Linked DNA regions of Homo sapiens. The protein of the gene in region 1 purifies or fractionates together with the protein of each later gene. This does not show direct contact. Each region holds a gene or a part of one and is shown in the gene's direction. Other genes may lie near its edges.

Region 1 (3,092 bases):
TGTTCTTGGCAAATCTGGTGTCCTTTTATAGGGGTACTTTCTTTTGTCTTCAGAACACATGGGGTTTCTTTTTTGTTTTGCTTTGTTTTGTTTTGTTTTGTTTTGTTTTGAGACAGTCTCGCTCTGTTTTGCAGGCTGGAGTGCAGTGGCATGATCTCAGCTCACTGCAGCCTCCACCTCCTGAGTTCAAGTGCCTCAGCCTCCCGAGTAGTTGGGATTACAGGTGCCTGCCACCACACCCAGTGAATTTTTGTATTTTTAGTAGAGATGAGGTTTCGCCATGTTGGCCAGGCTGGTCTCAAACTCCTGACCGCAAGTGATCCACCTGCCTCGGCCTCCCAAAGTGCTGGGATTACAGGCGTGGGCCACCACACCCAGCCCAGAACACATGGGGTTTCTACACATGCCAATAACGATCACTCTCTCCCTTCAATCTGGGCACTGCAAAAAAGAGAAAAGTCTTCTCCAGCCTCTCTCTAATGTGGCCTTTCCTGGTTCTAACCTTCCACAGAGATGAGAACAGAGGTAGGATCTTCACCTTCTTTTGAGCAGGGATAAGGAGCAGGAAGTCCTTATCCTGTCAGAGTGACTGGCATCTCATCTTTGACTTACCCAGTGTGACTGGCACCTCCATCTCTCCACCCTCCTTTTGCACCCTGCAGCGTGTCACTGGCCTGCAGAGCAATGCTGCGGGTGACGTCAGCACCTCTGCCTTCTGTGAGCCCCGTAGGAGAGAGTGGCTTAAATCCAGATCACAAATTCATTTTGATATCCTTAGCTGCTCACATTTTCTGACTCATGGGTTTTGTAAAACATTAGAGGCAAGCTGATTAAGATAGCGTGGTTTTGCCTTAAGTAATAAATAATAATAATACACTGGGTACTACAATATTATTCAGTACTTACCCAGGAATTATGTTAATGCTTTACATGTAATATATCAATTAATTGTCCCCACAGCTCTCTTATGTAGGTATGATAATTATCCCCATTTTTAGATGAGTAACTGTAAAGGCCCAAATTTAATAACTTGCTCACATCCTATTGATAAAGTAAAACTATTTACCATGACTGTGTTCTGCTTTCTTTCATTTCTTAATTGAATTCGGATGCAATAGACTTTTTCTCCTAACACAGATGTCAGACTCCGGAGTGGAGTGATTTTGGGGGGGTTCGTCTGTCTGGTTTTACATAAAGAGCTTTGTTTGCATTTGGAGATGACAGAGGCTTCTGTCCTTTGCAGTGTGAAGCTCATCTAGGTCACGTGTTTCCTGATGGACCTGGGCCCAATGGTCAGAGGTTTTGCATCAACAGTGTGGCTTTGAAGTTCAAACCAAGGAAACACTGACCATCTTCAAGAGTCCCGTTCCCTTGCCACCCCTTCACGTGCACCCTCAATTTCCACAATTCACTTGAATGACTTGTTTTATTTGCAATAAAACTGGGCTGAATTTGCTGCTGTCTCCAGCGAGTCATTGCTTCTCTTAATTTATTTACCTGGAATCAACTTAATCCTGTGTGTTAGGCTGTTCTTGTGTTGCTATAAAGAAGTACCTGATCAGGATCTGGGAGAATTTGAAAAAAAAAGAAAAACTAGAAAAATAAACAAAATTAAAAAGAAAAAAAAATACCTGAGACTGAGTAACTTATAAAGAAAAGAGGTTTAATTGACTCACAGTTCTGCAGGGTGTACAGAAAGCATGGTGCCAGCATTTGCTCGGATTCTGGGGAGACCTGAGGGAGCTTTTACTCATGGCAGAAGGTGAAGGGGGAGCCGGCGTCTCACATGGCAAAGCAGGAGCAAGAGAGAGTGGTAGGGAGGTGCCACATACTTTTAAACAGCCAGATCTCTCAAGAACTCACTCACTGTCACCAGGACAGCACCAAGCCATGAGGGATCCACCCTCATGACCCAGTTACCTCCCGGCAGGGCCCACCTCCGGCACTAGGAATTATACTTCAACATAAGATTTGGAGAGGGAAAACATCCAAACCATATCACCCAACTCCCACTTGGAGTAGAACTTCACAAAACGACAGAGGGACAGCTGTTTCCATCAAACACTTCCACAGCTTCACCTGAGACGAGGGCATGACTCTGGGAACATCAGGAGGCTGATGGACTATTAAGCCAAACAATTCCTACAAAAATTCCCTGCACCTTCCACTGCGTTTCAGTCCTTGACAGACATAAGTAAGGGATCAAGTGAGAAGAGGAAGGAAAATACAGGATCCAAGGAATCAACAATGCTAGCACTGAAGAGCAGGATTACGGAGGAGCTGTGCTCTGGGAGCATATATGGTGATCAATCAGATGCATGACTTTTTTTTCAAAATTTTAAATGTCTTGAGCATGCTACTTCCAACCATTCTACCCACAAATAAACTGCAATAGGACTTGGTTAGATTTCAATGATTATGAATAAATGTTCACCTTCATACCTTCTGGTTACAAAGCTAAACTTTAAAATGTCCAAATAAAATATTCACTAAAATTTATGTTTGCTTTTTGGCTAAGTCAATGAACATGCTCTTTTATAAAAAAAACTCTAGCCAGGCGTGGTGGCTCACACCTGCAATCCCAGCACTTTGGGAGGCCAAGGCAGGCGGATCACCTGAGGTCAGGAGTTTGAGACCAGCCTGACAAACATGGAGAAACTCCATCTCTACTAAAAATACCAAGTTAGCCGGGCATGGTGGCACATGCCTGTAATCCCAGCTACTTGGGAGGCTGAGGCAGGAGAATTGCTTGAACCCAGGAGGTGGAGGTTGCAGTGAGCCAAGATCACACCATTGCACTCCAGCCTGGGCAACAAGAGCAAAACTCCATCTCAAAAAAAAAAAAAAAAACAAAAACAAAAACCAAAAAACAAAAAACCTCTAAATTAAAAATGACAAATAAGAATTGGCTCACATGGTAGCAGGCATTTGGTTATACCAAGACTAATAGCAACTCAAGTATTTCACAAATCAAGAGTCTTGAATAATTTGTTACTGAAAGTATATAAATCATTCTCTTTGTGACTTTATGGGCAAAAAGGAAACTTGTTTATACTTTTTTTCTCTTTATGAACTTGTTATATATTATTTTA
Region 2 (3,757 bases), on another chromosome or scaffold:
TGAGACAGCCTCACTCTGTGCCTGGGCTGGAGTACTGTGGCACAATCGTGGCTCACTGCCGTCTCAAACTCCTGGACTCAAGTGACCTTCCCACCTCAGCCTCGCTAGTAGCTAGGATTATAGGCATGAGCCATCATGTCCAGCTAATTTTAAATTTTTTGTAGATACAAGATCTCACTCTGTTGCCTGGGCTAGTCTCAAACTCCTGGGCTCAAGCCATCCTCCCACTTTGGCCTCCCAAAGCGCTGGGATTACAGACATGAGACAACACTCCCAGCCATCCAGGCTTATTTATACAAGCTTTGTTAGCATGTACCAAAGGAATTATAATCTCATTCTATAATCTGTACTTTTTTTTCTGAAAAAAGTTACAAAATTCCTTCCTTGCATTTTAAACTTGACCCCTGTAGATACCTGGTAGTGGAATTGCTAGATTAAGTTTAACTGTTTTTTAATTTAATGTTTTCTTAGAGAAATTTTCAAAAATAAACAAAAGTAGAGAATATAGTATGTTGCACCCTCATGTAGATGAGTTAATTTTCATTCTTCATTATCTCTGTTTTGAACAAAACTAAATGATCCAACTTTTATAATCTCTTAACTTTCGTTTTACCATTGTGAAAGTAACGTACACATTGTATTTTAACAATAAAGAAGAAAAAGCCAAAACAATGCTTGTACGCTTGCAGTTTTAGATATCTGCTCAAACGTAAGTATATTCATTTGTTAGGGCTGCTATAACAAATACCACAGACTATGCAGCTTAAACAACAGAAATTTATTGTCTCACAGTTCTGAGGCTAGAGGTCCGAGATGAAGACTTCAGCAGGATTATTTCTTCTGAGACTGCTCTCTTTGTAGATGGTCATCTTTCCCCTTTGTTTTCACATGGTCTTCCTTCTGTGTATGTGTGTATGTCCCTCCTGTTCGGTTCTTATAAGAATATGAGTCATAATGGACTAGGGCCCACCCAGTGAACTCATTTTACCGTAATTGTCTGTTTAAAGGCTTTAGCTCCAAATACATTCTGAGCTACAGGGGGATAGAATTTCAGTAAATGAATTTTGGAGGGACACAATTCAACCCATAGCAATAAGTATAGCATTGTTAGTCTTGTTTTTAATGCATGTATTTCTTTTACATATTTAATTTGCACCCTGCTTCTTTCCCTTCGTGATATCAGAATATTCAAAGTTTCTACAAGCTGCTTTTAAGTATTATTAACTACATACTAATCTGTTTTATAAGTAGACTTCTGTTGGAAACTGCATATAGATCTTTCTTTTTTTTTTTTTTTTTTTTGAGACGGAGTCTCGCTCTGTCATCCAGGCTGGAGTGCAGTGGCGCGATCTCGGCTCACTGCAAGCTCCACCTCCCAGGTTCACACCATTCTCCTGCCTCAGCCTTCCCAGTAGCTGGGACTACAGGCGCCCGCCACCACGCCCGGCTAATTTTTTGCATTTTTAGTAGAGACGGGGTTTCACTGTGTTAGCCAGGATGGTCTCGATCTCCTGACCTCGTGATCCACCCGCCTCGGCCTCCCAAAGTGCTGGGATTACAGGCGTGAGCCACCGCGCCGGCCCTGCATATAGATCTTTCTACTGCTTAGTGTCCTGGGTTCCTTTTTCAGTCCCACATCTGCTATCGGGGTTCTTTCTGTGCTCTAGTCTTGGGCAGCATTTGCTCCCTAGTCTACTCTGTGACTACCATCATCAATCAATCTACGTTGAGATATTCCCTTTACTTCCTTTCCTTCCAGAGTGTGATGCAGTCTCTGCAGCACCCACTTTATTTCTATTCCCAAAAGGCAGGCACCTCCACTTCACAATTGCATGTCTCTGATAGACTTAAATTGTAATTTTTCTCTGTTTGTATATGTCTCATGTAATAAACTACGAACTTTTAAGGAAAAAGGACCATGCCCTATTTTTTTGTTTTCTTTGTGCTTAGGGTAAGACAATGTAGTTGACATTCAGTGAATCTTAAAGGAAAGTGAATGAATAAATAAATAACATAAGCAAATAAACCATATTCAGGACATTGTTACAGTGTTCCCTCTCCACTGGTATCTCACACCTTTGATTTATTTTTCTTAAATTTAGTCTAAATGCTCTAGATATGCATAACTTTAGCTTTTGTAGGAATAAATATGTCTGAATTTTTAGAATAAAAGATCTTCAAGGTGCTCTGAAAACAAAATGTCTTTTATGGTAGAAAAATATGTATATTTCAGGAAGTGATATACCCTCTAATTGTAAATATTAGTTTATTTTAGGAGAGCTATGAAAGAGTGAATTCATTTTATTATTCAGGAGATACTTGGTTTTTACATTACTCCAAGCACTATTATAGGCCTTGATTAAAAGTGGGGAATAAATTTATGCACGGTCCCTCCTTTCAAGGAGAACCTGCTAGCATAGCACTTTCATAAGAAATTGGTTAACTTAGCTCTCTCATTTTAGAAGATATAGATTAAGATTCAGGTTGTAAAGTCTACAGAAATATGTGATCGAGGACCACTTTGATGTGATACTTCATCAAGAAGGTAATGTTTTTAGAGGTTTGCTTCTTGGTAAATACAACCTTAGGAAAGAAATTGAAACAGTGCTTCCTGTTTTATGCAGTTAGTTTTAGATTAATTTATATATTCAAAATATTCATGTGTTTTATATATTTATATGTTATAGATATTTTGAAATATTAAAACATTTTTTCAGTTAGGCATGGGAAATTTTTTTTGTCTATCTAAATGTGTTTGTTATCATTCCAATGTATCACTTTGATTTTGTAAATAATACCTCAAATTTGTTTTATCTTAAGAAAGAATAAAACTGACTAAACATGTATTTTTTGTTCTCAGGGAAGATTTAGAACCATCCAATTAAAAATTTTTAAAAAACATCTTGTCTCCACAGTTCCATCTCCCAACCTCTATAGCCAGCTGAATGCACTACAGTTTACTGTGGATGAAAGAAGCATTCTATGGTTAAATCAATTTCTGTTGGATTTAAAACAGAGTCTTAATCAGTTCATGGCTGTGTACAAGTTGAATGACAATTCAAAATCTGACGAGCATGTTGATGTTCGAGTTGATGGCTTAATGCTAAAGGTATCATACAAACAAGTAGTAGTAATGATTTAATTTTGTTCTTTTTATTTTATGATTTGTGCGTATATGTATGTTACATTGATTATTAATTCATGTTATGTTTTTTAAAAAGATTCTCTTCTTAGTGGTCATGTAAGTCCCCTTTACTCAATTTAATAAGATTTGAGGGGAAGAGTTAGTGTTTTACGTCTTAATAGGAAAGTAGTATTTTGGGGGAAAGGTCAAGAAAAAGAATTTCTGAGCTAAGTCATGTTCTTTTATCTTCAAGATGTATGGATTTGCCAGTTGGATGAGATTAATTTTTCTTCTCTTCTAGTTTGTCATTCCTTCTGAAGTGAAATCTGAATGTCATCAAGATCAGCCACGTGCAATTTCTATTCAGAGTTCTGAAATGATTGCCACAAATACAAGGCACTGTCCAAACTGTCGACATTCTGACCTAGAAGCTTTGTTTCAAGACTTTAAAGATTGTGATTTTTTTAGTAAAACATATACCAGCTTCCCCAAATCTTGTGACAATTTTAATCTTCTACATCCAATTTTCCAGAGACATGCTCATGAACAAGATACCAAAATGCATGAAATTTATAAAGGAAATATTACTCCCCAATTGAATAAAAACACTCTTAAAACTTCTGCTGCCACGGA
Region 3 (3,757 bases), on another chromosome or scaffold:
ACAGCAGAGGCATTTGTTCTGGGCAGGACAGCTTTTCTGAAGAAATATAGTAGGTATCTAGGCAGACTACAGCTTCAAGAGCGAGGCTAGGTACCTCAGGGTAGGGCTCTCTCGACTTTGCCTTTTGGGGAAGGGAGCTGCCCTTATGTGAAGCCTGCAAGTTAGAATAAACCCAAGCTTAAAACAGCAAAGACCACTCATGCCACACATCCCCAAATTGATCAACCCAGTCCTTGTGTGTGTGTGTGTCCCCCAAACACACTGCTGGAGCTGAGAAGGAGCTGACCAGGTTAGTTTCGACAACTCAGTCCTTCATTCAGAAAGATGAACAACCAAGGATCATGATGGGAAAACCACCAGCACATAAGAGGAAAGGTCAGGAAGAACAAACAGAATAGTCCCTGAAGGAAGCAGATAAATTAGGGAACTGGAAGGAAATTTTCTAAAAATCTCATAGTGTCCTGCAAGAGTTTTGGGAAGATAGTACATCTGTAAACTGTTAATAAGAAGTATGTTCTAGGCTTAAAGTATAATAATAATAAAAAAAGAAGTATGTTCTAGGAAATGAAGCAATGAAAACAAAGAGTCTGTAGAAATTAGACATATGACTGTCACAAGATTCGGTACCTGAAGTAGATGATAAAATTTCGGAGATCTTATGGAGTTTAAAGCAAACTATAGAGAGGCAAAAAATATAATAGAAATGCAAAAAAAAATCAGAACTAATCTGAACTCCTGTTAATACCCGTCCAGTAGTAGGAGTTCTGGAGTGAAATAATTGGGAAAATGGAGGAAGTGACATTACCAAGTAAATAATAGATGGAAACTTCTCAGAGTTAGGGGAAAATAATTATTCTGCAGATTGAAAGATTTCACTGCTTACCAAGTAGGATGAATGAAAAGGGAATATATATATATCTTCTCTATATATATATATTCTATATATATATATCTTCTATATATATATTCTATATATATATCTACTATATATATATTCTATATATATCTACTATATATTCTATATATATATCTAATATATATATATGTGTGTGTGTATATATATATATATATATATATATATATATATAGTATTGCTAAAATTTTAGAATATCAGAGCATAGAAGATCCTAGGAGATTTCAGAGAGGAAAAAGCTATCAAGAAGAAAAAGGGTGAGAACCATTTTTGGCTCAAACTTCCTCAGCAACACCGGAAGTGGAGAAGTGCACTCAAAGTTCTGAAAGTTATTTTGTATCAGAATTCTGTACTCAAGCAAATTATCAATCAGGTGGAGTACAAAACACCAGAAACTTGGTGTATGAAAATTCAGAAACTAGACCACATCCAGTGCATCTTTTTTAAAACAACTACTTGGCCAGGCCTCGTGGCTCACTCCTGTAATCCCAGCACTTTGGGAGGCCAAGGCGGGTGAATCACGAGGTCAGGAGTTCGAGACCAGCCTGGCCAAGATGATGAAACCCTGTCTCTTCTAAAAATACAAAAATTAGCCGGGCGCGGTGGTGGGTGCCTATAATCCTAGCTACTCGGGAGGCTGAGGCAGGAGAATCGCTTGAACCTGGGAGGCAGAGGTTGCAGTGAGCCAAGGTCATGCCACTGCACTCCAGCCTGGGTGACAGAGCGAGATTCCATCTCAAAAACAAATAAATAAATAACAACTACTTGAGATTATGTGTGTCAGAAAGCAACAAAAACTCAGTTCAGGAAATAGGACAACATGGGATCCAAGAAGCTAGAAATAACCGCAGAATGCAATGAAAGCAAATCCAAGCAAACGGCTGAGCCGCAGGCCTAGAAAGAAGCGAATATATATTAGACCATTCAACAAATAGGAAGATCAAACAGCTAGAAGATATCAAAGACCAAGGAGGAAGGTGGCACTCTTGCTTCTGAATCTCTGCAAATGTGGTTCCTTCTACAAAAGGAAACCAGCATGCTTTATTGTTAACCTACTTTTTTTGAAAAAGAAAAAAAAATGGAACTAGTTATAGTTTTCTGCAGTTTAAACATTCTAAAAGATTGTATCATGTGGAAAGCTTTTTTTCTTCCTCATTACACAGGTGGAGAAACAGGTGAATGATGCCGTTTCTAAAGGTGCCACCGTTGTGACAGGTGGAAAACGACACCAACTTGGAAAAAATTTCTTTGAGCCTACCCTGCTGTGCAATGTCACCCAGGACATGCTGTGCACTCATGAAGAGACTTTCGGGCCTCTGGCACCAGTTATCAAGTAAGATCCTCCAGCCAGCGGGGAGATGGGAGGAAGAATAGAAGAGAACATAGGAAACCCTGAAAGAGATTCCTGGGCTGCTTTGAGGTCTGGCCAGGAGGCAGACAGTTGTGTTGAGTCCATTGAAGAGCAGAGTGCAATTTATGGGTTTTTAAAAAAATCATAACTTATTTGGACCATAAAATTTATCAAATTCTATTTTTTTTTTCTTTTTGAGATGGAGTTTCACTGTGTTGCCCAGGCTGCAGTGCAATGGTGCGATCTTGGCTCACTGCAACCTCTGCCTCCTTGGTTAAAGCAATTCTCCTGCCTCAGCCTCCAGAGTAGCTAGGACTACAGGCACCCACCACCATACCAGGCTAATTTTTTGTATTTTTAGTAGAGATGGGGTTTCACCATGTTGGCCAGGCTGGTCTCGAACTCCTGACCTCAGGTAGTCCTGCGTTGGCCTTCCAAAGTGCTGGGATTATGGGAGTGAACCACCATGCCTGGCCTCAAATTCTTTAATTTACTTTTTCTTACTTTCTGCTGAACTCTTTTTTTTTTTTTTCTTGAGATGGAGGATGGAGTCTTGCTCTGTCACCCAGGCTGGAGTGCAGTGGCATGATCTCAGCGATTCTCGTGCTTCAGCCTTCCGAGTAGCTGGGACTACAGGCACGCGCACCATGCCTGGCTAATTTTTTGTAATCTAGTAGAGATGTGGTTTCACCATGTTGGCCAGGCTGTTCTTGAACTCCTGACCTCAAGTGATCCGCCTGCCTCTGCCTCCCAAAGTGCTGAGATCACAGGCATGAACCACCGTGCTCAGACCTGAACTCATTTTCCTTCTTAATGTATTATACCTCAAAGGATTCTTTCATTGGCCTCCATAGGACATGAACTTTCTGTGTCGTTTTGTGGTCTTTTATCTCCCATTCACAAGTAGATAATAATTTACCTGGATAAAATTTTAGGTTCAACCCTTTGGAGATATTACTCCTTTATCCACTTTTTTTTTCTTTTTTTTGTTTTTTGTTTTGATATGGAGTCTAACTCCGTCATCCAGGCTGGAGTGCAGTGGTATGATCTCGGCTCACTGCAACCTCCACCTCCTGGGTTCAAGCGATTCTCTTGCCTCAGCCTCCCGAGTAGCTGGGACTACAGGCATGTGCCACCACACCTGGCTAATTTTTATACTTTTAATAGAGACAGGGTTTCACCATGTTGGCCAGGCTGGCCTCAAACTCCTTACCTCAAGTGATCCAACAGCCTCAGCCTCCCAAAGTGCTGGGATTACAGGTGTGAGTCACCACGCCCGGCCTCTTTATCTACTTTTATCCAGGGTTATTGCCAAGAAATCTGATTCTTGCTTCTTTGAAAGAAATCTATTTTTTCTCTTTGGAAACATTTAGAATTTCTCTTGATCTTTGATGTTCTTAAATTTTACTATCTGGTATGGCACACAGTGAGGTTTTTCAGTTGAGGTCCTAATATCTTTAATACGGTTTTTTTGTTTTGGTTTGGGTTTTTTT

Evidence for each region.
Region 2: the proteins of MSRB2 (region 1) and BLTP3B purify together in Homo sapiens (co-immunoprecipitation; 2 studies listed by BioGRID and IntAct, with this or other methods). This does not show direct contact.
Region 3: the proteins of MSRB2 (region 1) and ALDH5A1 purify together in Homo sapiens (co-immunoprecipitation; 2 studies listed by BioGRID and IntAct, with this or other methods). This does not show direct contact.

Annotation. Positions count from the first base shown.
Region 1 is NC_000010.11:23,119,515-23,122,606, forward strand, and holds the end of MSRB2 (methionine-R-sulfoxide reductase B2, mitochondrial precursor), read left to right. Parts: intron 1-1,243; coding exon 1,244-1,348; 3' UTR 1,349-2,499; downstream 2,500-3,092. UniProt on the Homo sapiens protein: Methionine-sulfoxide reductase that specifically reduces methionine (R)-sulfoxide back to methionine.
Region 2 is NC_000012.12:100,059,202-100,062,958, reverse strand, and holds part of BLTP3B (bridge-like lipid transfer protein family member 3B), read left to right. Parts: intron 1-2,915; coding exon 2,916-3,109; intron 3,110-3,425; coding exon 3,426-3,757. UniProt on the Homo sapiens protein: Tube-forming lipid transport protein which mediates the transfer of lipids between membranes at organelle contact sites. Required for retrograde traffic of vesicle clusters in the early endocytic pathway to the Golgi complex.
Region 3 is NC_000006.12:24,525,921-24,529,677, forward strand, and holds part of ALDH5A1 (succinate-semialdehyde dehydrogenase, mitochondrial isoform 2 precursor), read left to right. Parts: intron 1-2,076; coding exon 2,077-2,246; intron 2,247-3,757. UniProt on the Homo sapiens protein: Catalyzes one step in the degradation of the inhibitory neurotransmitter gamma-aminobutyric acid (GABA).